7 linked regions of the Homo sapiens genome follow. The protein of the gene in region 2 purifies or fractionates together with the protein of the main gene of each other region. This does not show direct contact. Each region holds a gene or a part of one and is shown on either strand. Other genes may lie near its edges. The genes, in order: OSBPL11, LMCD1, SLC15A1, USP46, NMNAT2, TPD52L1 and PCTP.

The links.
Region 1: the proteins of LMCD1 (region 2) and OSBPL11 purify together in Homo sapiens (co-immunoprecipitation; one large-scale study listed by IntAct). This does not show direct contact.
Region 3: the proteins of LMCD1 (region 2) and SLC15A1 purify together in Homo sapiens (co-immunoprecipitation; one large-scale study listed by IntAct). This does not show direct contact.
Region 4: the proteins of LMCD1 (region 2) and USP46 purify together in Homo sapiens (co-immunoprecipitation; one large-scale study listed by IntAct). This does not show direct contact.
Region 5: the proteins of LMCD1 (region 2) and NMNAT2 purify together in Homo sapiens (co-immunoprecipitation; one large-scale study listed by IntAct). This does not show direct contact.
Region 6: the proteins of LMCD1 (region 2) and TPD52L1 purify together in Homo sapiens (co-immunoprecipitation; one large-scale study listed by IntAct). This does not show direct contact.
Region 7: the proteins of LMCD1 (region 2) and PCTP fractionate together in Homo sapiens (co-fractionation; one large-scale study listed by BioGRID). This does not show direct contact.

What each region holds. Positions count from the first base shown.
Region 1 is NC_000003.12:125,592,698-125,596,669, forward strand, and holds the start of OSBPL11 (oxysterol-binding protein-related protein 11), read right to left. Parts: upstream 2,801-3,972; 5' UTR 2,104-2,800; coding exon 1,940-2,103; intron 1-1,939. UniProt on the Homo sapiens protein: Plays a role in regulating ADIPOQ and FABP4 levels in differentiating adipocytes and is also involved in regulation of adipocyte triglyceride storage. Weakly binds 25-hydroxycholesterol. Interacts with OSBPL9 to function as lipid transfer proteins.
Region 2 is NC_000003.12:8,546,823-8,550,322, reverse strand, and holds part of LMCD1 (LIM and cysteine-rich domains protein 1), read right to left. Parts: intron 1,756-3,500; coding exon 1,420-1,755; intron 450-1,419; coding exon of another isoform or gene 429-449; exon of another isoform or gene 1-428. UniProt on the Homo sapiens protein: Transcriptional cofactor that restricts GATA6 function by inhibiting DNA-binding, resulting in repression of GATA6 transcriptional activation of downstream target genes. Represses GATA6-mediated trans activation of lung- and cardiac tissue-specific promoters.
Region 3 is NC_000013.11:98,725,173-98,728,672, forward strand, and holds part of SLC15A1 (solute carrier family 15 member 1), read right to left. Parts: intron 1,688-3,500; coding exon 1,671-1,687; intron 1,278-1,670; coding exon 1,196-1,277; intron 1,093-1,195; coding exon 951-1,092; intron 1-950. UniProt on the Homo sapiens protein: Electrogenic proton-coupled amino-acid transporter that transports oligopeptides of 2 to 4 amino acids with a preference for dipeptides. Transports neutral and monovalently charged peptides with a proton to peptide stoichiometry of 1:1 or 2:1.
Region 4 is NC_000004.12:52,590,460-52,593,301, reverse strand, and holds the end of USP46 (ubiquitin carboxyl-terminal hydrolase 46), read left to right. Parts: 3' UTR 1-2,342; downstream 2,343-2,842. UniProt on the Homo sapiens protein: Deubiquitinating enzyme that plays a role in behavior, possibly by regulating GABA action. May act by mediating the deubiquitination of GAD1/GAD67.
Region 5 is NC_000001.11:183,411,881-183,415,380, reverse strand, and holds part of NMNAT2 (nicotinamide/nicotinic acid mononucleotide adenylyltransferase 2), read left to right. Parts: intron 1-3,500.
Region 6 is NC_000006.12:125,261,773-125,264,907, reverse strand, and holds the end of TPD52L1 (tumor protein D53), read right to left. Parts: intron 2,075-3,135; coding exon 1,946-2,074; 3' UTR 501-1,945; downstream 1-500.
Region 7 is NC_000017.11:55,749,657-55,753,850, reverse strand, and holds the start of PCTP (phosphatidylcholine transfer protein), read right to left. Parts: upstream 2,801-4,194; 5' UTR 2,748-2,800; coding exon 2,607-2,747; exon of another isoform or gene 1-2,606. UniProt on the Homo sapiens protein: Catalyzes the transfer of phosphatidylcholine between membranes. Binds a single lipid molecule.

The sequences.
Region 1 (3,972 bases), about 120 Mb from region 2:
AAAATATTTTTAAAGGAATATTGGTATTTAATGTTGACATTTTAATAAGAGATATCAAGCATATTAAAAAGAAAAATATTAAGACCTAACAGGAAATGTATAAAAAACACATATGTAGATGTTTCACAAAAGAAAAAAAAATGATCATAAAGAAAAATGAACTAAAAATGCATCAGAAACCTAAACATAAGCACTAAAACAAAACTCCTAGACAAACACATAAGTGTAAATCTTTGTCATCTTAAACTTCACAATGTTTTTTTAGATGTGACACAAAACTATAACAAGAGAAGAAAAAACTCATTAGACTTCATGAAAATTAAAAACCATTGTGCTGCAAACAATATCATCAAGAAAGTTGTAAACCAAAAATAACATTCGAAGGCACCTCACAACCAACTTAATAGACTCCCGGCTCTCTCCAGACCCAAATGTGAATGCCAGGGCCGCGGCGGCGCCCCACCCACAGCCCCATAGCAGGTCAGGACGAAGCGCCACGGACAGGGGACCCGCGGCCCCTGCCACAGGTCACACACATACAAAAAAATCATGCTGATTCCAAAAGCGGGCCTAGACCTCTCAAACTAACTGAATATATCTTCTTATCCTACAGTCACTTACCAATAAAAAGTTATCTTCTGGCCAGGCGCGGTGGCTCAAGCCTGTAATCCCGGCACTTTGGGAAGCAGAGGAGGGCTGATCACTTGAGGTCAGGAGTTCGAGACCAGCCTGGCCAACATGGTGAAACCCCATCTCTACTAAAAATACAAAAATTAGCCAGGTGTGGTGGCGCACGCCTGTAATCCCAGCTACTCGGGAGGCTGAGACACGAGAATCGCTTGAACCCAGGAGGTGGAGGTGGTAGTGAGCCGAGATCGCGCCACCACACTCCAGCCTGGGTGACAGAGCCAGACTCTGCCTCAAAAAAAAAAAAAAAATTATAATCTTCTATACTTCACTTCTATATGTTAATATAGTCATGCATATTTCATACATATGAATATTATTCATGATAAATGTATATCCCTCACAAAATCTTGGCTTTAATCCCTTCCAAGTTTCACAAAAATTTCACAAGCACAAATAAGCACAAAGGCTAAAAAGGACTACAGTTAGGCACATAGGAGTCAATCAAAACTTAAGAATTCATCCCTTTAGTTCCAATACGATGGGATGTGCTGGTTTGTTTCATTCATTCTTAAGGTTCTGGATAGTTCTTTCTCCCTACACTTCATATATGAAAAAACAAAAACAAAACTTGTTGCCTCTCCAGGACTCTCCTCCTGTTCCTTAAGTTGTTCATTCATATTAGTGAAAATTAACAAATATAGACTTTCTCATCAACACAGAGAGCATTGAAGTGGCCTGAGCAACGCAAACTGAACATCTCCAGGCTCAGGTTTAGTTTATCAGAGGCATTAGGATCTCTACCTTTGTCCTTGCATTCCAATTACTTATGTACATTCCCCTTTCCAAGTCACAAATACCTTCAGGGCAAGAATCTTTTCTGATTCTGGAGAAGCTCTGGACAAGTAAGTTTTGAGCACCAGTATTTGCTACCCTCTCGAGAAAGCTGAGTTAAACAGTTCCTGCCCTCGCAGTCTATCAGAGAAAGCTGGCTTGTAAATAAATTGCAACATAGGCAAAAGCAGAAGTGAGTACAGAATTAAATCTGAGGAAGCATTAACTCTCTGACTGTAGAGGAAGTTCAGGGATACATTTCTGTGTTCCTCAAAAGGCCTTCCATAAATACCTGTTGAATGAACAAATGAATGGATTAAATCTTTTAGGCGAGGTCCCAGATCCAAACGAGATGTATCAGTAGCTTCTGGAAGCCAGTGAAAAAACTTTTATCTTTCAACAATTGCGGGATGCAGCCTCCAGGGCATATTCACCCCTACCTCCACCTCGGGAAATAATTTTGGAGAAAGGAGCATACCTGTACTGCCAGCCTTTTGCACTGCCACCGCGGCTGCTGCTGCTGCTACTGATTCCACCTCCACAGCTGCTGTTCTTGTTCGGGGTCACCGCTGTGGCCTGGCCCTCCAGCTTTCCTTCGCTCTCCGAGACTTTCATTGTGGACACTGGTTCACCCCCCTGCATCTTAACGCCAAAGTCCACTTGCCCTTCTTGAGCGGGAGAGAACAATTCTGTAGTTCTGTAGGTGACTTTTTTTTTTTAAGATTTGATCTGAATATGATACCGGTTGCTAAATCACACGGCGGCTGGGGCGGGACTGTCAAATGGTCCAGAAAAGGAAGATACACATTCCCACAGAAGTTAAACTTTTGAGAGGGCAGGGGAAGCAACGAGGACAGATATCCTTCACATGTATCTCTCTCCTTTCCGGCAAAAGCAAGGAGGAAAAAGCATCCGGCGAGAAGACTTAAGTGACATACTCAAAAGAGAAGGAGTGTGGGGAGGTCGCAGATTCTGTAGCCAAGACGGCTGGGAAAAGGACGGAGCGCCACGGACAGGGGACCCGCGGCCTAACCTCGGGGCTGACCCGCCGCGCTCCCTCGTCTCCTCCGCAGGTCCTCAGGCAGTGCGTCCAGTCAAGCCCGCTCGGCAGTTCCCGCCGCAGCCCCCGAGATACAGCCAGGGCCGGCGCGCGCAGCCGGGGAGGAGGGTCGGGGAATGAGGCCGCCGGGGGCGGGACGCCGGCTCCCGGGGCCGCCTCTCCCAGGGCCAGAGGCGAGCCACTCGGGACAACTTCCTCTTATGCCCCTGGCCCGGGCCCTCGACTGGGTTCCCAGGAGCCGGTGAGTCTCTCGCGCTATCTCCAGACCCAAGCGCGAATGCCAGGGCCGCGGCCGCCGCCCCACCCACAGCCCCACAGCCCCACAGCCCCACAGCGGGTCAGCCACCCCCCGCCCCCTGCTCCCTTCCCGCCTTCCCTTCCGGAGTAGCGTGAGCTCACTTCCCTCACAGCCGAAGCGTCTGGCGCCATCTTGGGTCAGGGCGGCGGGTCCCTGAAGGAGGCGGAGGCTCTGGGAGCTGGTAGCTGGGCGACTGGCTGATGGGCGAGGGAGGGCGAGGGAGGGCGCCGCAACGGAACGAGGAACCCGGACAGTGAAGGAGGAAGAAACAAAGGAGCCAGCAGCACTAGAGAGTTCCCTTCTGGTGTGTGAGTGCCCGCCTTCCTTTTTTTTTTTTTTTTTTTTGAGACGGAGTCTCGCTCTGTCGCCCAGGCTGGAGTGCAGTGGCGCGATCTCGGCTCACTGCAAGCTCCGCCTCCCGGATTCACGCCATTCTCCTGCCTCAGCCTCCCAAGTAGCTGGGACTACAGGCACCCGCCACTACGCCCGGCTAGTTTTTTGTATTTTTAGTAGAGACGGGGTTTCACCGTTTTAGCCGGGATGGTCTCGATCTCCTGACCTCGTGATCCGCCCGCCTCGGCCTCCCAAAGTGCTGGGATTACAGGCGTGAGCCACCGCGCCCGGCCGAGTGCCCGCCTTCCTAACCACGTCCTAGCCTTCCATTTGAGGGGCCGTTCCAGGCATTTTAGGAAGAAAGCTTACAAAAATAAGAAAGTACAAGAACGAAGCAAACATCTGTACGTTTTAGTTACTTGGGGTGGGGGGGGGGCAAGCATGACATTGGAGTAAAGCCAATCATTATTATAAATTAAAAAGAAGCTGTCATGGAAATTAGAGATCTCAGAACAGAGCTAGGTACTCTTCCAGACCCCAGACAAATCTTTCACCTTGTTTAGGCCTTGGTTTTGGATTTGTAAAACAAGAGTGCATGGGTAGATTTCTAAAGTCTCTCCTAATTGCTAATTTTAGTTTATAATAACATGACTTGAGGCTGGGCACAGTGGCTCACGCCTGTAATCCCAGCACTTTGGGAGGCCGAGGTGGGCGGATCACTTGAGGTCAGGAGTTCGAGACCAGCCTGGCCAACATGGTGAAACCCATTCTCAACTAAAAATACAAAAATTAACCGGGCATGGTGGTGCGTGCCCGTAAT
Region 2 (3,500 bases):
AAAAGTTAATTGCCATAGAAACAAATGAAGACACTTGGTTGATGGGGCAGGAGGAGCAAAAGGTAAAACAGGGGCTGGGGACCAGAAACGCAGTACACGCTAGACCCACGTGGTCCAGCCTCAAGCATTCCTTTCGCCTTCTGTGGGGCAGTTTAAGACAAACCAAGCCATGAGGCTTTCATCTCCCCAACTCTGGCTTCTCCTTTCTGTTTTCTCAAAATGGCCCCCAGTGACTCACTCCTCAGCAGCACTTCTTCCACACTGCCACTTCCTATGGGTTGAACATCCCCTCCAAACACTCAGGTTGAAACATAATCCTCTGCATGGCAGTATTGAGAGGTGGGGCCTTTAAGAGATGATTGGGTCGTGAGGGCTCAGGTCCTCAGGAATGGATTAATCCACTTATGGCTTAATAGATTAATGGGTTATCACACGAGTGGGACTGGCTTCTAAGAAGAGGAAGAGAGACCCGAGTTAGCACACCCAGCCCCCTTGCCACATGATGCCCTGAGCCACCTCAGGACTCTGCAGAGAGTGCTCACCAGGAAGAAGTCCCTCACCAGATGCAGCCCCTTGGCCTTGGACTTCTCAGCCTCCACAGATGTATGAAATACATTCCTTTTCTTTATAAATTACCCAGTTTCAGGTATTCTGCTATAAGTAACAGAAAATGTACTAAGACACTGCTAGAGGAAACTTTTGTAAGCACAGCATGGACCATGTACCTCTGACCAAAAGCCTGTCTATGACCTTTGGAATAAAGTCCTAACTAAGTTCATGGCATTCTGCAGTTTGGGGACAGTGTCCTCTGCTTGTTTGATTTCCTGGGGCAGTGCAGCTAATACAAGCTAATCAGTATTTGACTGATGAATGGATGGATGGAATGAACCCTCCAGGAATCCAGCCTCTGCTGCCCTCCCTAGCCTCATGTCCCCAGCTCCCCAAGCATGCCACACTTTCAATCACGTGGGACTTCTTTTAATCTTCTAAATGCACTGTGCTTTCTTGAACTCCTGGCTCTTTTTGCAAATGCTCACCTCTTTAAGGGGGTACACATCCTCCCCTCAAAGCCTGAAGGCTTGGATGACCCCTAGACATTCTTCGTAGACCAGCTTGTACCTCACCAACTTCTTGAAGCTTACCCTCACCACCAAGCAGGCTTAGATGTCCCTTCTCTAAACTGTTTCGGTTTTGCCTGTGACCGCCACTGGACTATGAGCCTTTCAAGGGCAGTGGTATTGTATCATTTTCCATGGGACAGTGCCTGGCACAGACTAAATGAGCAATCAATATCTGCTGAATGCACAAATTCATGAATAAATGCATGAATGAGGGAACAAAGCCCCGTGATGGGGCCCTGACTGTCCAGCCCTGGGCCTGCATGGTTTCAGCCTGGCTGGAAGCATGGGAGAAACTTACGTATTCCACTTCTTTGGACGGGTCACTGAGACTGCCGTTGGTGGTAGCAGCAGTGGTCTCTGCCCCCTCTGGCTTTTCCTGCTGCTTCCCCTCCTCCTTGGGCAAGCCACCCTGCCCCGGGAGGGCCACTTCTCCCACGCCGAGGGCCTCGCTCTTATATTGCTTGACAAATTCTTCCATCAGTTTCAACTCATTCTCCAAAAGTCCACGGCAGCGCGAGGGATCCTGGTCATAGATGGGGAGCTGGTGCATGAGCTGGCGGCGGCGGTAAAAGGCACCCTCTGTGCCTGTCACTGGCTGCTTCTCCTTGGGGATGAGCTCCATGTACTGCAGTCCCTAGGGAGGAGGAGGAGGAAGAGACAACATGATGTGGATGGGGCTTCATCAGTCAAAGAAACTATGACAGAATCTACCTAAAACTGAAAATGCATTCTCTTCCAGCATTCTCAGCAACTGAAAGACCCACAGTCTTTATTTTCTTAACTTAATGCAGTTAGATTACTTTTGTAATTTTAGAAAATTACAAAAGCAATACTGTCCATTGTGACAAATAAAACACACATGAGAGAAAAAACTTTAGTAAAGGAAAAACACGCATCCCTTAGCTACCTTGTGTATGTAGGGAGTGTTCTGTGTCTCAATCTTGGTGAAAGGGCCATGGAAATGTATCTGTGTCAAAGCTCATCAAGCTGTACACATCAGATGCACGCACTTTGCCATATGCATACTGTATGATCGTGTGCTACATGACGGCATTTCAGTCCACGATGGGCCACATATACCATAGTGGTCCCATAAGATTATCATACTCTATTTTCACTATACCTTTTCTAGGTTTAGATATGTTTATATACACAAATACTGACTGACCATTGTGTTACAATTGCCTATAGTATTCAGTACAGTCACATGCTGTACAATTTGTGGCCTAGGAGCAATAGGCTATACTGCGTAGCCTAGATGCGTAGCAGGCTACACCATCTAGGTTTGTGTAAGTGCATTCTTTTCTTTTTTTTTTGAGATGGAGTCTCGCTCTGTTGCCCAGGCTGGAGTGCGGTGGTGTGATCTCGGCTCACTGCAAGCTCTGCCTCCCGGGTTCACGCCATTCTCCTGCCTCAGCCTCCCGAGTAGCTGGGACTACAGGTGCCCGCCACTGCTAATTTTTTTGTATTTTTAGTACAGACAGGGTTTCACCGTGTTAGCCGGGATGGTCTTGATCTCCTGACCTAGTGATGCACCCGCCTCGGTCTCCCAAAGTGCTGGGATTACAGGCATGAGCCACCGCGCCTGGCTGTGTAAGTGCATTCTTTGACATTCACACAAAGACAACATCACCTGAGGACACATTTCTCAGAACGAAACCCCAGCATTAAGTGGTGTATGACTGTCCTTTGTTTTAAAAAGGATTTTAAAAACTTACACCTTATTGGCTCATGGTAACAGCTTGCCAACAACTTTGTGTTTATCGTTCCAGACAATAGTATATTTATTAAATAAGGGCACCCAGTCTTCTTTCTGCCTGGAACAAATAACAAGTAGGGTTGTACTTAATGTATTTAAATGCTATTTTCTGTGCGTGTGTACCATTTAACATGAGTCCTTGGTCAGTGGGTTCTGTTTCTCCTGTGACTGGGCCAGCCCATGTCATGGTGTGGGACAGGGAACAATCTTGCGTGTGAGAAAGAGACACTTGTTTGCATCTGCTATTGTGTGCTCTATCTGTTGGTTAAGTAGCTAGCTGTCTACTTGCTAATAATAATCATTATTTTATTGCTTATTCTCCAAGGAACACTGTAGTTTTCAATTTTGGATGGCAGTGGAAAGAAAAAGGAGTCTACATTTACTCATGGGCTAGGTTTTCCATCAGAATTTGAATAAAGCTCATTTTGCTCTGTTCTCTGACTTTCAATTAATGGTAATAATTACATTTACTAGTTTGCCTCTATCACCAAAGAAAAGTTGCTGCTTTTAAACCTCTTCTTTAGTATCATTTGCTAGACGGTAGCCAGTTGATAAAACTCTTAACAGTATAATGACAAAAGTTATGCCAGCTGGCTGCCCTCACAAAACCTGTGTCCCAC
Region 3 (3,500 bases), on a different chromosome or scaffold from region 2:
GACTTTCATCAGATGCTTGGTCTTCCAGCCAGCAGAATCATCAACCAAATATACCTTTTTCCTTTATAAATTCCCCAGCCTCAGGTATTCCTTTATAGCAACACAAGTGGACTAAGACAGCCCACGTCATTCCTTTGGCCTGGAAGAGCCTCTACTTCCTTCTTCATTAAGTCCCAGGAAAACTTTCCTGACAACATCCCACTGGGTGTGCTCGTGGAGCCCTTCCTGGAGGGCTGGGTGACTTCTCTCTTTAGTGACCTCACACCATGTGACCTCAAGCAGCGTGAGCCCCTCAGCAGCCAAGGGGGTATTTTAGAGAGTTTCTTCATATCCCCAGACCTTAACTCCATGCCTCACACATCACTAATAATAGACAGTATCCCTGCTACTGTGTCAAGATGTGACAAAGATGCTACATTTGTTTGCATTAGGGAAAAACAAAAACCTATAGATGCTGCTTGCAGTCACTAAATGTCAGGCACTGTTTCAGGCTCTAGGGACAGGATACTGAGCAGAAACAGCGCTGTAAATGCTCTCCTAAGGGTTTGTTTCTGTTTTTAATTTGTTTTTGAGACAGGGTCTTGTTCTGTCATCCAGGCTGGGGTGCAGTGATGTGATCACAGCTCACTGCAGCCTTGACCTCTGGGGCTCAAGCGGATCCTCCCACCTCAGCCTCCCAGCTAGCTGGGGCCACAGGTGTATGCCACTATGCCTTGCTAATTTCTTTATTTTTGGTAGAGATGGGTCTCACTATGTTGCCCAGGCTGGTTTCAAACTCCTGCCTCAGCCTCTCAAAGTGCTGGGATTACAGGTATGAACCATACCACACCTGGCCTCTCCTAAGAGTTTCTGTTCTTTGATTCATCATTCCCAGATTCCACCATTCCCAACTACAAAACCTACATTTACTTTTTCGCTTGTTTGTGAACAAGAAATTTCCAGCCACTCACTTGAACTTTCCCAGCCACGAGTCGGCGATAAGAGCTCCGAGAATTGGCGTCAGGTAGCACAGAGCCACAAACGTATGGTAGATGGCGGTGGACAGGTTATCATCCCAGCTGATGAAATTTGTGAAGTACAGAATCAGGATTGCTTTTGCAGAGGGCAGGTGGAAGAGGAGGGGGAAACAAAGTTAGGACTGGTTATGGCCACTCCCGCTCTTCCCTGAAGGGTGAGAAACGGCCAATACAGTTACCTCGCATTCCATAGTAGGAAAATCTTTCGCAAAACTCATTGACCACGATGAAGAAGATGCTCAGGGGATAACCAAAGAAACTCTGACAAAAAAGAAACAAGCACAGGATTGAAATACACCCCCCACTGGTCCATAGCCACAAAGGAGCACCAGTGGCATGAAAGGCAGCCAACGCAGATTCAGTAACTTACCGGTGACTGTCTAGAGCAGGAAACTAGCATTTAATCATTTTATTCCCTACACTAATCCTTCCACATAGAGACAGCAATGAAATAAAGCATCCAGTGGTATTGTTAGTCTGAGGAGGATTATCCACAGCATTTCCTCAGGAGAGGACATCTCACATGGAAATCCGGGATCATACCCTCACTGGTTCCAGATGTACAGATCTGTTAGGTGAATGAACCCTTAGGGGTAAAACAGATGATAAAATTTACAAGATGAAGATATGTAGAGAAGGAAAAAGGGTACTCACGTGTGATTTGGACATTCCTAAAAGAAAAACAGAATCCCAATATTAAAGTCAAGCCATTACAATAGTTTTTGCTGTGTCTAAACTCAGAGCCTCTGACTTTTTAGGGTGGTCAGAGGGGCCATTCACCAAACAGCTCCAGCCCTCCCTGGGATCCCGGCCCCAGACTCATGCTTCTTATCTGAGGTGGGGCCTGGCATCTGTATTTTCTTTTAAGAAGCTCCTCAGGCAATTCTCGTATGCAGTCAAAATTGAGAAGCAGCAGCTCAGAGAATCAGGCCTAAACCATTTCCTCCTGAAACACTTCAAAGGCCGCCCATCGGGATAAAATCCACACATTCTAGCATGTTCTTCAATATCTGACAAGTGTTTTGGTGGGGATGAAATTTCTGTAATATAAAATGCTTCTGAGTGCCTGACACACTGTGCACACTCAACCGCCACCTCCTATGGCTTGGGCCCTGCCTGCCAGGCTCACCCCATGATTTAAGTCTTGCCACCGATATTCCCTTCCCAAATCATCTCTGATGTGCCTACATCACCATACTGTAATGATGGGCAGTTTATATTTTTGCTTCCCTTCTGGACCAGGTTCTGAAAGCAGAAGAATCATGTGCCATCCATCACACCAACATCCCCACTTTCAACGTCCTGTACAATACCTACCACTGGTAGGGGGTTATGTCACAAGAATGAATGAGAAGAGCAGGAAGAAACAGCCTGAGAATACAAGGGAGCTGGTGCACGTCAAGTCCAGTGGACTCTCCCATGTGCATCCTAGGAGCGCCTCATCCCCATCCCGTCAGCACCTGCTCTTCTGTCTCCCCGGAATTTTGGCAAGAGCTGAGCTGTGCCCTTGTCTCTAGTCTTTACACCTCCTCACTCTGCTCCTACACAAACACATTGCCCTGTGTTCATCCGTGTCTATCACATACTACCCTGTTTCCCACAGGACATCCATCCCCTTCCCCCTCACTCACCCCGATTTCCTTATATTAGAGTTCTTTGTTGCCAGGGCTCCCTGAACATGCTCCACCTCCATTAGGAATCTAGGAATCGGTGACCCCATAGCAGTGGGTCTCACACTGGAGTGTGCCTCAGAATCACCAGAGGGCTTGCAAGAACAGATGGCTGGGCCCCATTCCTGGAGTTGTTGATTCTGTAGGCCTGAGATGGACACTTGAGCTTGCATTTCTAACAAGCTCCCAGGTGTGGGTGCTGCCACTGGTCCAGGCAGTGTGCTTTGGGAATCACTACACTGGAAAATTATTCTTTAGACTGTTCTTTTCCCAGTGTTTGTTCTTGGCAGCTTTGTCAAAAATGAGTTGGCTATAAATGGATGCATTTATTCCTGGGTTCTCTTTTCTGTTCCATTGGTCTATGTGTCTGTTTCCATGCTGATTTGGTTACTACAGCTTTGTAGTATATTTTGACATCAGGTGGTACCTCTGGCCCTATTCTTTTTGCTCAGGATGACTTTGGCTTTTCGAGGCCTTTTGTTGTTGTATATGAATTTTAGGATTTTTTTCTATTTCTATGAAAGTTGTCGTTGGATCTTGTCATTTGCAGCAATACAGATGAAACTGGAGGACATCAGGTTAAGTGAAATAAGCCAGGCACAGAAAGATAGATATCACATATTCTCACTCATATGTAGGAGCTAAAAAATTGATCTCATGGAGGTAGTAGTGGGTAGAATGGTGGTTACCAGAGGATGGGAAGGGTAGGTGAAGGTGGGAGGATGAAGCAAGGTTAGTGGATACAAAAACACAGTTCTGTAGAAGGAATAAGAGCTGGTGTTTGGTAGCACAACACGGTGACTACAGTTAACAA
Region 4 (2,842 bases), on a different chromosome or scaffold from region 2:
TGGGACTGTGTTTTTCTTTCCTAGGCCTCACTTTGTCCTGGGATTTATAGGACAGGCCTGTCACTACCAAGGTGACACAAATTCTAGAGAATGTATTTTCCCATTTCTTCAAATTTCCTTTCCTCTCTTTTTATTGATACTTAAAATACCTTTACTAAAAAAATGAAGCCTTCCATTTCCATTCCCTTATATTTACATGAAGATAAAAATACTTACTAAGTCGTTGTATTTGTCCATTCTGGCAGTGCTATAAAGACATACCTGAGCGTGGGTCATTTCTGAAGAAAAGAGGTTTAATTGGCTCATGGTTTTATGGGCTGTACAGGCTTCTGTTCTGGGGGAGGCCTCAGGAAACTTACAATCAGCAGAAGGCAAAGGGAAAGCAAGCCCATCTTACATGGCAGGAGCAAGAGGAAGAGAGCAAAGGGGGAGGGGTTACACACTTTTCTTTCCTTTTTTTTTTTTAAGATGGAGTCTCACTGTCACCCAGGCTGGAGTGCAGTGATGAGATCTCAGCTCACTGCAACCTCTGCCTCCCGAGTTCAAGCGATTCTTCTGCCTCAGCCTCCCAAGTAGCTGGGACTACAGGCATGTGCCACTATACCCGGGTAATTTTTGTATTTTCAGTAGATACAAAGTTTTCTCATATTGGCCAAGCTGGTCTGGAACTCCTGACTTCAGGTGCCTCAGCCTCCCAAAGTGCTGGGATTACAGGCAAGAGCCACCTTGCTCGGCTGGGGTTACACACTTTTAAACAACCAGATCTCGTGAGAACTCAGTCATGAGGCAGTACTAGGGGGATGGTGCTTAACCACCTATGATGCAATCACCTCCCACCAGGCCCCACCTCCAACACTGGGGATTACAATTCAACATGGGATTTGGGTGGAGACACAGAGCCAAACCGTATCAGTCATTTTTCTTTTACTGAAGGAAAATTTTGGTTGTGGGGTTAGTACTAAAGATAGCCCATGTAGACTTTTTCTGAAGATACCCCAAGTGGAGAGATTTTTAATTAGGCATTTATTTGGCACCTATTGCATTCTAGGCATTGTGATAGGAGCTGGGGGATAAAAAGGTGACACAGATTGGGTCCCTCTTATGGACTCGTTTTTTGTCTCAGAAGACAAGTCTGGGTGAGAAAGAAATTTAAAATTTAAGTTGTGGAAATAACACGTGTGGGGGAAACTCCTTGCAATTCAGCACAGTTTGGTATTCAGCCCCAGCCTCAACATGCAGATGGCACTGTTGGATGAAGCCACACCATCTTTTTTCCTGGGAGCCCCACACTCTTCCCAGCCTGCCTTCTAGCTCAGGGACAACACATTTTGAAAAACAAAGTATAAATCGATTATGTTGCAACAATGAACTTCACGTTTTGCCTCTTCTCATGTTAAAAGAGCCAGTATCATGAAAGCCTCAACAGTGAGCTTTATGAATCAAATATCTGTTATTTCTAAACAATCTGTTTACATTATGACCAAATAATTAGAGCCTATCTAGACTTACCAAAATAAGATAGGGCATAAGCGATTTATTGGTGCATCAGCCTTTGTTTGCTTTTTAAGGTTCCTTTATGTTTTAAAGGGATTTGAACAAAAGACATCAGGAGCTTACAAAGGAAAAATAGCTTCATTTTGGTTATGAGATACCAGAGTCAGAAATGACATTAGATTGTATAGAAAAGACTTCTAATTGTGTGCTTACTTCCCACATGATTATAATAAACTATATATTAACAACCTTGGGATCGTACTCAGGTTGTCAATTACACGGATGCATCTTTCACTTTTTTCTTTCCCAAGAGTGAGAGAAAGAGTGAGGTTGTGCTTAAGGCAGTGTGGAATTCTACAGAAGCTCTTCTTGGAAAAGGAGTTCAGGCACTTGTGTTGTAGACTGCAGTCTGATTCTGTTCTTACTTCCTCTCAGCATAAGGGAGCTTTGAAAAGAAAACTCAGACTTGTATCCGACTTGACCAGAAGCAAAATAACTTGATCATTGAAGCCACTATTTCTGTGTATTTGATCAAGTCCTCCTCTGGAATCCAATGCAGCCATATTCATATTTCGGTCTCTCTTAATGGACCTTGCTGGAAAGAACATTCTGTGCTAAGAAAATGGAAAATAAACGTGAGAAAACTTTAAGAATGAGCCTTCACACCTCCTGCAGCAGGTGATAGCTCTGTACTTCAGAGCTTGTCTCCAGGTTGAGAATTACCTGTTTTCCACTCTGAGGGGATTAGAAAGATACTGTTTTAATGGGTTATAAAACTTGTGTGAAGAAGATTGGCCTTCTCCACCTCTCCTGTGAAATAAATTGTTTGAAAACTCTTTGAAGAGAAATGGCTTCAGTATATTGTTCTATCTCTGCTACCCCAAAGCCCAGAGAACAAATATTAAGTATAAATTGCTAGGCTAGGTATGTCATATGTGGCAGCTTTGACATGTAAACCAAAAGACTGAGCCAAGTCTCAATCAATGTACAGGTTATTTTGCCAAGGTTGAAGACACACTAGGGAAAAGAGACACAAGCTACAGTATGATCTATGGCCCCTACTTTCTCCAAAGAGGATTTTGAGGGCTTCAGTATTTAAAGGGGAAAAGTAGGCAGGAGGAGAAAGGAGGAAAGAACAAAAAAAAGAGGGAGAGCATGGTCACATTCTTAGGAGGCTTTGATTCACACTCACTGAATCCATGTGTTGCACGTGGCAAGGAATGGGTAGAGGAACAGTCGATTATGTATGTCCCCTGCTCAGTAAAACTGCACTTTACAAAAGATAAACAGAATAGGGGAAGAAGTCAAATATGCATTTATCTCAGGCTGGGCAGTGGGGATGGTTTGT
Region 5 (3,500 bases), on a different chromosome or scaffold from region 2:
CCAGTTATTTATGAACTATTTCCTCCTTTTAAATTGCTTTAAAAATTTTCTCTGTGACAACACGGAAATAATTAATACAACTAAATTATCAAACTTTTGGCCAGGTGTGGTGGCTCACTCCTACAATCCCAGCACTTTGGGAGGTGAAGATGGACATTAACACATGAGCTCAGGAGTTTGAGACCAGACTTGGCAACATGGTGAAACCCCATCTCTACAAAAAATATAAAAATTAGCCAGGTATGGTGTTGCATGCCTGTAGTCCCAGCTACTGTGGAGGCTGAGGTGGGAGGATGGCTGAGGTGGAAGCCTGGGAGGCAGAGGTTGCAGTATGCCAAGATAGCACACTGCACTCTATTCTAGGTAATACAGCCAGACTCTGCCTTAAAAATTTTTTTTCAAGCTTTCTTTAAGGTGACTGAAATTTGTAATAATTTTTTTTTAAAAAACAGACACAAACAAGACTTTGAAATTAGGCATTTTAAATAGAGCTCCTATATCCTGAAATTCAATTTCTTATCAAAGGAAAAAGAGAGACTGTAAACAAAAAGAGAAGTGACATTCAAAACTCACTCTTCATCTTTGTAAAGTAGCACTTGTACAATTCTCAATATTTGTAAATATTTTTAGAATGAACTTTTCTTTTACTCTGAAAGGGAAGTTGATATTATTTCTCCTATTTGAAACTATAGAAACATACAGGAAAAAATAGTATTTGTGAGAGATATTTGACACTTGTATACTCAACTGTAACTAAAATGCTTTCAGGGATGAGTAAAAGTTTTTGGCAAAGTAAACTCATAAATGAGTGATGTCATATCTCATGGGTCTGCCTCATTACATAAGAAGATAATGTGGAATTGGAAGTTTTAAAAAATGTAACTGCTTAGTTTTTAACTATGTAGAGATTATAATTTAATGTAGCTTTCTTTACATTTATAGCTATATTTGTCAATAAATCTACCACTGGGAAGTCAGAGAGCAAGTTTAAATAGAAAAGTAAGAAAGGACAGCTCAGATTATTTTGGCTATATAAACAAAAACAGAGGAATTGGGGAATTTCATCACAGCAGAAATATTTCTAGCTATTTTTTGTATTTTTTTCTATTTTAATTTGTAGATATAGGGTCTTGCTCTGTTGCCCAGGCTGTAGAGCAGCAGCAGGGTCATGGCTTCCTGCAGCCTCAAACTCCTGTTTCTGCTAGCTGCAGTTTAAATCCATGACTCCAAAAACTATTATCTTTTCACTGCGCTCTGATATTGTCTCCAAAAATTACCAAAGTCTAGCATCTTTCCTCCTTTTAAGCCAGTCAGAGGTCTAATGCCTGACAGAGAGGAATAACCAGGTTGCAAGGAGTCATTCATTCAGGTCGGGTGGTTAATATCAGGGAGAGCTTTCTGAAATAAGCTTCAGTGAGAACAATTGGAATTGGAAACTTATGGCAGCCGCTGTTTTTGAAAATTAATATTTCTAGGCCGGGCGCGGTGGCTCATGCCTGTAATCCCAGCACTTTGGGAGGCCGAGGCGGGCGGATCACGAGGTCAGGAGATCGAGACCATCCTGGCGAACACGGTGAAACCCCATCTCTACTAAAAACACAAAAAAATTAGCTGGGCGTGGTTGCGGGCGCCTGTAGTCCCAGCTACTCAGGAGGCTGAGGCAGGAGAATGGCGCGAACCCGGAAGGCGGAGCTTGCAGTGAGCCGAGATCGCGCCACTGCACTCCAGCTTGGGCGACAGAGCGAGACTCCGTCTCAAAAAAAAAAAAAAAAAAAAAAGAAAGAAAAGAAAATTAATATTTCTTTAGAAAAATCATATTTCTTCGAAAAGACCCACAATACTGATAACTCAAATGGCACAAGATCTACTATAATCATTTTCCAAGTACCCCAGCCTGTGGCATAGTAGAGTCTCATGCTTAGGCTGGGTGCATGCTCACAGCCACCACCGTGCTCTCCAGCAGTAGTCCCTCCACCAGCATCCAGGAGAATGTGACCAAAAACAGGAGGACATGGTGCCTGTAGTCCTAACTACACAGGAGGCTGAGGTGAAAGGTCCGCTTGAGCCCAGAAAAAGAATTGAATTTGGTCATTTCTGGCTGTGACCAAGGCCATCCTCCTGGTATTGGCTCCCTCCTCCCTTTACATCTTCCAGTGTCTCCATGATTTGTAAACTCTGCAGCAAAGGCAAATATTACGACCACTACTAGTATCATCATCTTCCCCATTATCATCCTAATCATGAAGCCACTTTATTTGAACTTCTTTAAACCATACTGCCATTAAGCTATTTTTTCTTAAATTTAATGCATAATTCTCTTTAGCATTATACAAGTGAGCCAGCCAGGAAAATTCTTATAATCATGGCAATAAGAGGTTAAGAGGAGGAAGTAGCAAAGGAGCAAGACTCTGAGGCTAACCCCTGGAAGTGATGGCAGCTAAATAGCATTCTTTTTCTGTTTTTCCTCCTACATCAAATTGCCTCCACATGAATAGACATGCTGCAACATATTGACCTCATTTAATATTTACCAGGCAGTAGAAGAGATAGTAAAGCATATTCCCTAGATAAGACTAAATGCTTATAGTTTTATTCTTGTTTCAGTTTCTTAGGCCAAAAACCTTGGACTAATGCTTAATTATTCCCTGTTTTGGACACACTATTTATGTCCAAATGTTTTGGAATCTCTTTATCTTCAAAATATAACTAAGACCAACAACCTCTCTCCATCTACATCCCTGGTGCAAACCACTGTTAACTTTCATTTGAATTATTGCAATAGCTTCTTAACTGGTCTCTCTGCTTCCACTCTTGGTTGCAACACTCATTTCTTAACAAATTATCAGAGCGATCCTTTTGGCCGGGCATGGTGGCTCACACCTCTAATCCCAGCACTTTGGGAGGCCAAGGCAGGTGGGTCATGAGGTCAGGAGATCGAGACCATCCTGGCTAACAAGGTGAAACCCCATCTCTACTAAAAATACAAAAAATTAGCCGGGCGTGGTGGCACATGCCTGTAGTCCCAGCTACTTGGGAGGCTGAGGCAGGAGAATCACTTGAACCCGGGAGGCGGAGGTTGCAGTGAGCTGAGATTGCACCACTGCACTCCAGCCTGGGAGACAGAGCGAGACTCCGTCTCAATAAACAAACAAACAAAAAAACAGAGTGATCCTTTCAAAATGTAAGCCAAATCTAAGTCAGATCATGTTGCTCCTTTGCTCCAAATCCTCCAGAGCTCCGTATCTCTGTCAATCAAAGTCAAAGTCATCATCATGGCCTACAGGCCTCCATGATCAGCCACTCTGCCCCCCACCTCCACCCTAACGCATCTCTTCCACTTCATTCTTAGCTAACCCCATGGAACATCTTTGCTTTGGCCTTAGAGTCTTTGTGCTGAATGTTCCCTTTGCTGGGAATGCCCTTCCCCACCTAGCCCATGTCTCATTCGCTCCCCTCCTCCAATTCTTTACTCAAATGTAACCTTCTCCTCATTGTCCACT
Region 6 (3,135 bases), on a different chromosome or scaffold from region 2:
GTTTTTCTATCCAATTCTAATATTGTGTTTTCAGATTATAAGGCTGAGACTATGGTGTGCAGAAATTGGTTGGTGAACGGAGATATTTGTTTAAAGTACCATAACTTTATCTAATACAATGCGGTGTGCTGAATATGGTAAAAAAAGAAGGTGGCAGGGAGTTTTCACAAGTTAGCCACTTCACACTCAACAGGCAGCTATAGATTGGGCACAGAGACTGAGTACTTGTGTGCTGTGGTGGGCGAGCCAGCACGGCCTGAGAACCAGCTGGGCAGGGTTGGTTTCCTGCCTCTACTTCAACCAACAGGCTGGAAGCACAAATAAGGGAGAATGCCAGCATCCCTGCTAGTGAGCTTTCTTTGTCTACATTTGTCCACTCTGGTCAAGTTTACAGCCCCATTCTCTCTGCTAAGATTCCAGGCCTCAGAGATGATGTTGTCCTGAACCACCTTGATTTTCAGTTAGGTGTACAGATTGCACAGATTGTCATGCTCCATTAATTTGAGTAGAATTTTTCAGATGTGCTTTACTTCAAAATGTCATATATATCACTTCTATTTAATAAACACAAAACATGAACAATTAGCATGCTAACAAATATGTATATATTATATGGGCTTTTTAAATAGTGATTTTTTTTAGGTTGGATGTCTATTCAGTGTGCATTTTACAAATATATCTTAAGGCTATATCTCTGCCACCTAATAACAAATATATGTTCCCATTTAGAAAAAGAAAAGAGATACATATGATATATAAGATAAAAGTTAGTGCAGAAATCTGAGTGGATTGATAAATACCAGTTATTTTCATACATGTGAACAATTTACAAACTGAAAGGGGTTGCAGAACTCTGCTTCTCCCATTTTCTAGCTATCTCTTTTTTGGATATCCTTTATCTGACTAACTACTACTGTATGTAGATTGGAGAGAATTTTAAAATTGGAGATTATTTTAACATCCTAGGATAGCTGAGGTAATATTTATTTTCATATCCTCTCTCATGTTCACCAAATTAGCAGTAAAAGTTGACTACTTATTATTACTATTTTTGGAGACAGTGTCCCACTCTGTCACCCAGGCTGGAGTAGTGCAGTGGTGCAATCATAGCTCACTGCAGTTTCGAACTCCTAGGCTCATGCAATCCTCCTGCCTCAGCCTCTAGAGTAGCTGGGACTACAGGCAAGCAACACTATGTCTGGCTAATTTTTTTCTTTTTTTGTAGAGACAGGGTCTGTGTTGCCCAGGCTGATCTTTAACTCCTGGCCTCAAGCAATCCTCTCACCTTGGCATCCAAAATAGTTGGGATTACAGGTGTGAGCCGCCGCACCTGGCTAAAAGTTGATTTAAAATTGCATCTGTAAAATCATAACTAGCAACTTTTAAGACAAAGAAATTAAGAATTCAAAGTCATTAAAATCAATTCTTTTAATTGCTGAAATTAACATACATAATTGATGTAGGTGAGAGAGATCACAAGTAGTTGGATGAAATTTATAGTAAATCATCCTATTGCTGGAGACAGTCATGAAGAGCTCCATCCTGTTGATCTGCTGAACTGAAAGGGACTGTTCATTCAGCCTTCAAGGACATGCACATCATAAAGGAGGCCAAGCAAAAATCAAAGCAAACAATAGCTACATGTTTGGAAAAATATACATCGAATTACACAGACAGGAATTATGACCAGTTGTGTACCTGCTCAAGTGGGAACATTTTAAAATGTGACAGTCATCTATGAATACTGAAATGTGATGGTCAAGTGGTCCATCATCAACACAAATACAAATGGAAATCATTAAACTTTCTGGAGGGGCCATTTGAATAACAATGTCAAGGCCTGGGTTTTTCCCAGCGGGATTTTGGTCTTCTTATCTGGATAAGCACAGGCAGAGATGGGCTGGGTAGTGGCCGGTTTCTGGATGCAGCTGCACGCTGGCTGGACTTAGCACTGCAGCTCCTCCTCCTTGGTCCGCCGGGAGCCTCCTGCCAAGCTCTGGGCACTGGCATGGGCCGTGGAGCTGAGGACCTCCTCAAAACTGCCTCCATTAGGGTTCGTACCGCCTACTTTCGTCTGAAATGAGCAGATCCACAAAAATGCAGTTAGTTGTTACTATCATTTTTGTAATGTTTTTATAAGAATACCAAAAGCTGGATTACTTTCAAATTCAGAAATACTTTCTATCTTTAGAGACAAAAGAATGCACAGAAGTTTGTTTCCTTTAGTAGAGTGCTAGAATATTATTCATACTTGGGTTCTCGGATAGGATTCCAAACTTTAATTTTGCACACTTTTAGCAACCCTCTCTTTATCTCTCCTGTATCTAAGATTTTAATCCCTTCAGGAGCATAATCGGATCCATGGACTTGGAACAGCTATCTCCACTCACCCAGAGAACTGATCTAATCAAAATGGAATTAGATTTTTTATTAATTCCTCCAATTGTACAAATGTATAAACATCCTTACATGACCTAAACTTAGATTTTTCTACTTGGGAGTTAGCAGGGCAAACTGGATTTCTGACAAATGTCTTTTGAAAAGTCAGAGTGGCTCAATGGAAAATGATTTCTGGTTTCTGCTTTGAAAATTGAAGATGGATCAAGTCTTAATCACTGGTGATTTCACATCATCTTAGGCAACTGCCTTTTGATATGGTTTGGCTGTGTCCTCACCCAAATCTCATCTTGAATGGTAGTTCCCATAGTCCTCATAATCCTAGCAAGGAGGAACCTGGTAGGAGGTAATTGAATCATGGGGGCGGTGACCTCCATACTGTTCTCGTGATAGTGAGTGAGTTCTCACAAGATCTGATGCTTCTACAAGGGGCTTTCCTCCTTTTGTTCAGCACTTCTCCTTCCTGCCACCATGTGAAGAAGGACATATTTACTTCCCCTTCTGCCATGATTGTAAGTTTCCTGAGGCCCCCTCAGCCCTGTGGAACTGTGAGTCAATTAAATCTCTTTCCTTTATAAATTACCCAGTCTCAGGTATTTCTTCACAGCAGCGTGAAATGGAATTAATACACCCTTACAGTATGAATATTCCTTACAATGCAGTTATGATGGTTTATGAGGCTTTTTTCTTGTGTATTTGTTATTGACTAAGCATAGAAACATGAAGGAATTAACTTAC
Region 7 (4,194 bases), on a different chromosome or scaffold from region 2:
CTTGGATCTAAATCCCAGTTTTATTCACCACTTCTTAGCCGTGTGCTTTGTATATGCCACTGACTTTCCCTGGACCTCAACTGCCTCGTCTGTATACAGGGAAGATGGCACAGCGGTCTGGGCTCGCTAGAGGAGAAGATGTCAGGTCTATGGTAATGGGAGAGAATGATGGAAATGTGAGTTGAGACCAAATTAGTTCAGTGTACCCACCAGGCAGCATTTGCCTTCTGTTTGGAGAGGCAATGCAGGAGCATGTTGAAGACACAGGACTGGAGGCAGACAGCTGGGTTTGGATCCTAGCTGGAATCTTGAGAAACCAACTTAACCTTTCTATGCATTCATTTATATATAGGTAAAAAGGTGATCATCATAGTACCTTATCATAGGGTTGATGCAAGGATTGAGTAAATCAATACTTCCAAAACACTTAGCACCTGAATTATAAGAAATCATGCAATAAATGTTAGCTATTACAGTGATGATTATTATTATTTCTGCAATCAATAGGCCACTGAAAAGGTAGTGATAAGATCACTGCTTCTCAGATGTTTGACTGCACTGGAAGGTGTAGGATAGACAGGAGCAGAGAGCTGGTAGGCCAAAAACTAGTTAAGAGGTCACTGCAATTCTAAGTGAGGGGTGCTGAGTACCCAAAGTAGCAAAGATAAAGGAAAGAAAATGGGAGGAAATAAGCCAGATGCTAGACACGTCTGAGCAGTTGAATCAACAAAACTTGGCCAAAGCCTTGATGTGGCTGGTAAGAAAAATGGAATAGCAGAGAAGATAAAAGAATTTTGCCTGGCTGGGTGTGGTGGCTCATCCCTGTAATCCCAGCACTTTGGGAGGCTGAGGGCTGAGGCAGGAGGACTGCTTGAGCCCAGGAGTTCCAAGACCAACCTGGGCAACATAGCAAGGCCTCATCTCTAAAAAATAAAAATTAAAAGAAAGACTTTTTCTGAAAATGTATCAATTTTCAAACTAAGGTACCTTTTAAAGTTACCCTAAGAAATTAATTCTGCCTGTTCTAGACTGTGAACTTCTTGATCATCTTGTTAAACCCAATGGTCCTAGTACACAGCAAGCATTCAGAGTTTGTTGAGTGAGTAATCCATCAAGATATAACATCTGTATACAGAAAAAAAGTAAATATGGCAGCTTAGCCACTTGCAGTATCTGCTGTGTTCTGGATTATGTAAAGGCCAGCCCTACTAATTTGTAAGTATTCCAAATAGCATGTTTTACAGTCCCACTAACTGGAGAGGGACGGACTGCATCCAAAGCAAATATATATGTATTTAGACAGGAAATTTCTTCATAATACCTATATTCTCCATTTATTTAGAGTAGGGTTTCTTGACCTTGGCAATATTACAATTTGGGACTGGATAATTCTTCCCCGGGAGAGGTATGGGGTCACTGTCCTGTGCATTGTAGAGTTATTTACAGCTATCAAATTTTCACACATATCTGACAGATTGGATTTGAACCCCCTAACAACCCTGCAATGAGACAGGCAGAGTTTTCATTCCTGCAATGAGACAGGCAGAGTTTTCATTCCTGTTTAACAGGTGAGCAACTTCTAAATATTGCAAACGTTTGTTTTCTGTTTTAAAATATAAAAACACTATATTTGATGTAAACAAAAATGCAAGTGCCTAAAAAGGCAACCACATGTTTGACATTCACAAGATCATGAACCCTCCAATCCCACCTCTGCTATTCACTTATCTGGGCCATTTCAGGAGTGACTTCACCCTTGAGGCCTGTTGCTTTCACCTATGAAACCTGGGGTTTAACCAGGTGAGCATGAGGTATCCTCCTAACTCTAACACTATAATATCCTGGTCCTGTATTAGGAAACTTCAGTTTCACCCACATTACCTGCAGGCGACTTTTAACCTACTTGCCATGCTGCGACTATTACACAAAGCAACTGATGACAAGCCTTGGATGACAGGCCTCAGGGGCAATGCCTTCCACCTGGATGGCTACCTGATTCCAAAGACTTCAACAACCAATCCCATTCCTCCTACATCTTTACTCCTGCCTGAAGATTCGGACTCAACTTATTAAGAGCAACTTGGAAGGAAGGGGCAACAACCAAAAGAAACGAGTCACTAAAACAGTAGGGCCCTTCTCGGCAACCCCTGACACCACCCTGCACATCCAGTCCTTGAAAAGTTCTGTTTCTTTTCCTCCTATATCCAAGCCCTAAGATACCGCCCCTCCCCCACCCCAGCCCCCATATGCCACTGACACGCATTGGAGAGTGAGGATCAACGTCCCTTGCAGACGTGTGCACGGGCCTAGGAACCAGCTGACCCACGTTTCAACTGTCATTAACTTCTAACTACATGCCCCGTCGGGCCTGACCTGAGGCTGAACTCCTGTGACCTTCCAACTCCCCTGGATCTGCACGGCAGTCACTTGGAGGCACCGCCCCTGCGCTAGCTCCAGAGCTTGAGACAGGGTCCGGGCGGAGCTCCTTCCTGAGCCGGAGAAGACGCGCCCCTGTCCCTTCCGCGACTGCCGCCCCGCACTCCCTGCGGGGAGGTCGACCCCGGCGCATTCTAGGCCCCGCGGTCCTCCAGCGGGTTGGCCGCTACCTTGTCCAGCAGCCGGTAGATGCTGATGCCCGAGGTCTCCACTAGGAGCTGCCAGTCGGCCCCGGCCAGAGCGGGCTGCTGGAGCTCGGCGCAGGCCTCCCAGAACTGCTCCTCCGAGAAGCTTCCGGCGGCCAGCTCCATCCTTCCGCAGTCCGGGCTCCTCCGCCTGGAGGGCAGGCCGCGGACACCCTTAGTGTGGGCCTGGGGGCGGGGTGACCGGGCTGCCCCGGCTGCCCCGGCTGCCCCAGCGTCATTGGCAGGAAACTGAGGAGAAGGCGGGGCCTAGACTGGAGGAGCGGCCTGAGGGTGGGGCCCTGGAGGGGCGGGCCTAGAAAAGCGGGCGGGGCTGAGCAAGGAGTGAGGAGGATAGACAAGAAGTAAAAGGAGAAAAATTGGACTTGATGTGGGGAAGGAAGGAAGAGCTGGAGAAGTAAGGAGGCTTCCAGAGGGAAGGGAAAAAGGAAGGGAGACAGTGATGTCACCTCAAAAACAGCTCCTCAGTAGCCTATCCCATACTCCCTGCTACTCCCATAACCTACAGACCTGTTTGAGTGTCTCTCATTTACCTTTCTGAATAAAGTAGAGAAAGTCTCTTTGGTAGACATGAGAGGAGAGGTGGGCAGAGTAGAAATGCTGGAAAAATCCTAAGGGGTCAAATGCCAGAAGTGTATTTCAATATAATTTCTCTTCTTTCTGCTATACATTGTAAAACATTATTCTGAGACGAGGTCCATTGGATTCCCCAGAAGACTCTAGGGGTTCATAACACCAAAACAGTTTAGAAACCTAATCCATAATGGATCTACAAGGTTGTTGCCACCCTTGAGGGTAGAAACTGATCTGAAAGGTGTCGTACTATCCACCTAGGATTTCTGCAACTTGCATAATTTAGCTCACTGTGCAACTCAAACATCTTCTTGTTCCTTTGAAGTCCCTTGAGTAATACTGTATTTCCCACCAGCAGACTGTACTACCTGACTTTGAATAAAGTAGGTCGTTTGAACATCAAAACGATGTAACAGCCACGTGAGTGCCAATAAACTCTGGAAACTCATGTTTCCTAATCTGTAAAATGGGTCAAGAATTGTGCTACCAGTTACAGCTGAGGAGGTGGTTGGACAAGGAATAATTTTCCACAGTGCCCGTCCAAGTAAATGTTCAATAACAATTTCCACTTGTTTTGCATTACTATATTGAAATGCTTTTCTTTCCTTACTTGAAAGAAAGTTGATGGCAAAGTCTTAATTTATGTGATTTTCCAATCAGGCAAATGATCACATTTGGCAGCTTGCTTAGTTAGACACAGCAGAGATAAATAATTGCTTTCCTCAAGTCAGTCCTGGTTCTGTTTGGCTTTATAGGTGTGGAAAGAGGGATGTGAAATTTTCCTAGACTAAATGCACAAAAGTTTAGGCTAGACATACTTTCCCACTGTTTTATAACTCCTTGTAAATTTTCTATGTATTGTAAATCCATATTTTATTTAAATGGAAATTCATTGCTTGAAAAACCAATTGTGTAAAAACTATTGGCTATGAAGTATTTTCAAGTATCTTCAAGGAATCCATTATAAAGGTTTGATTTGATA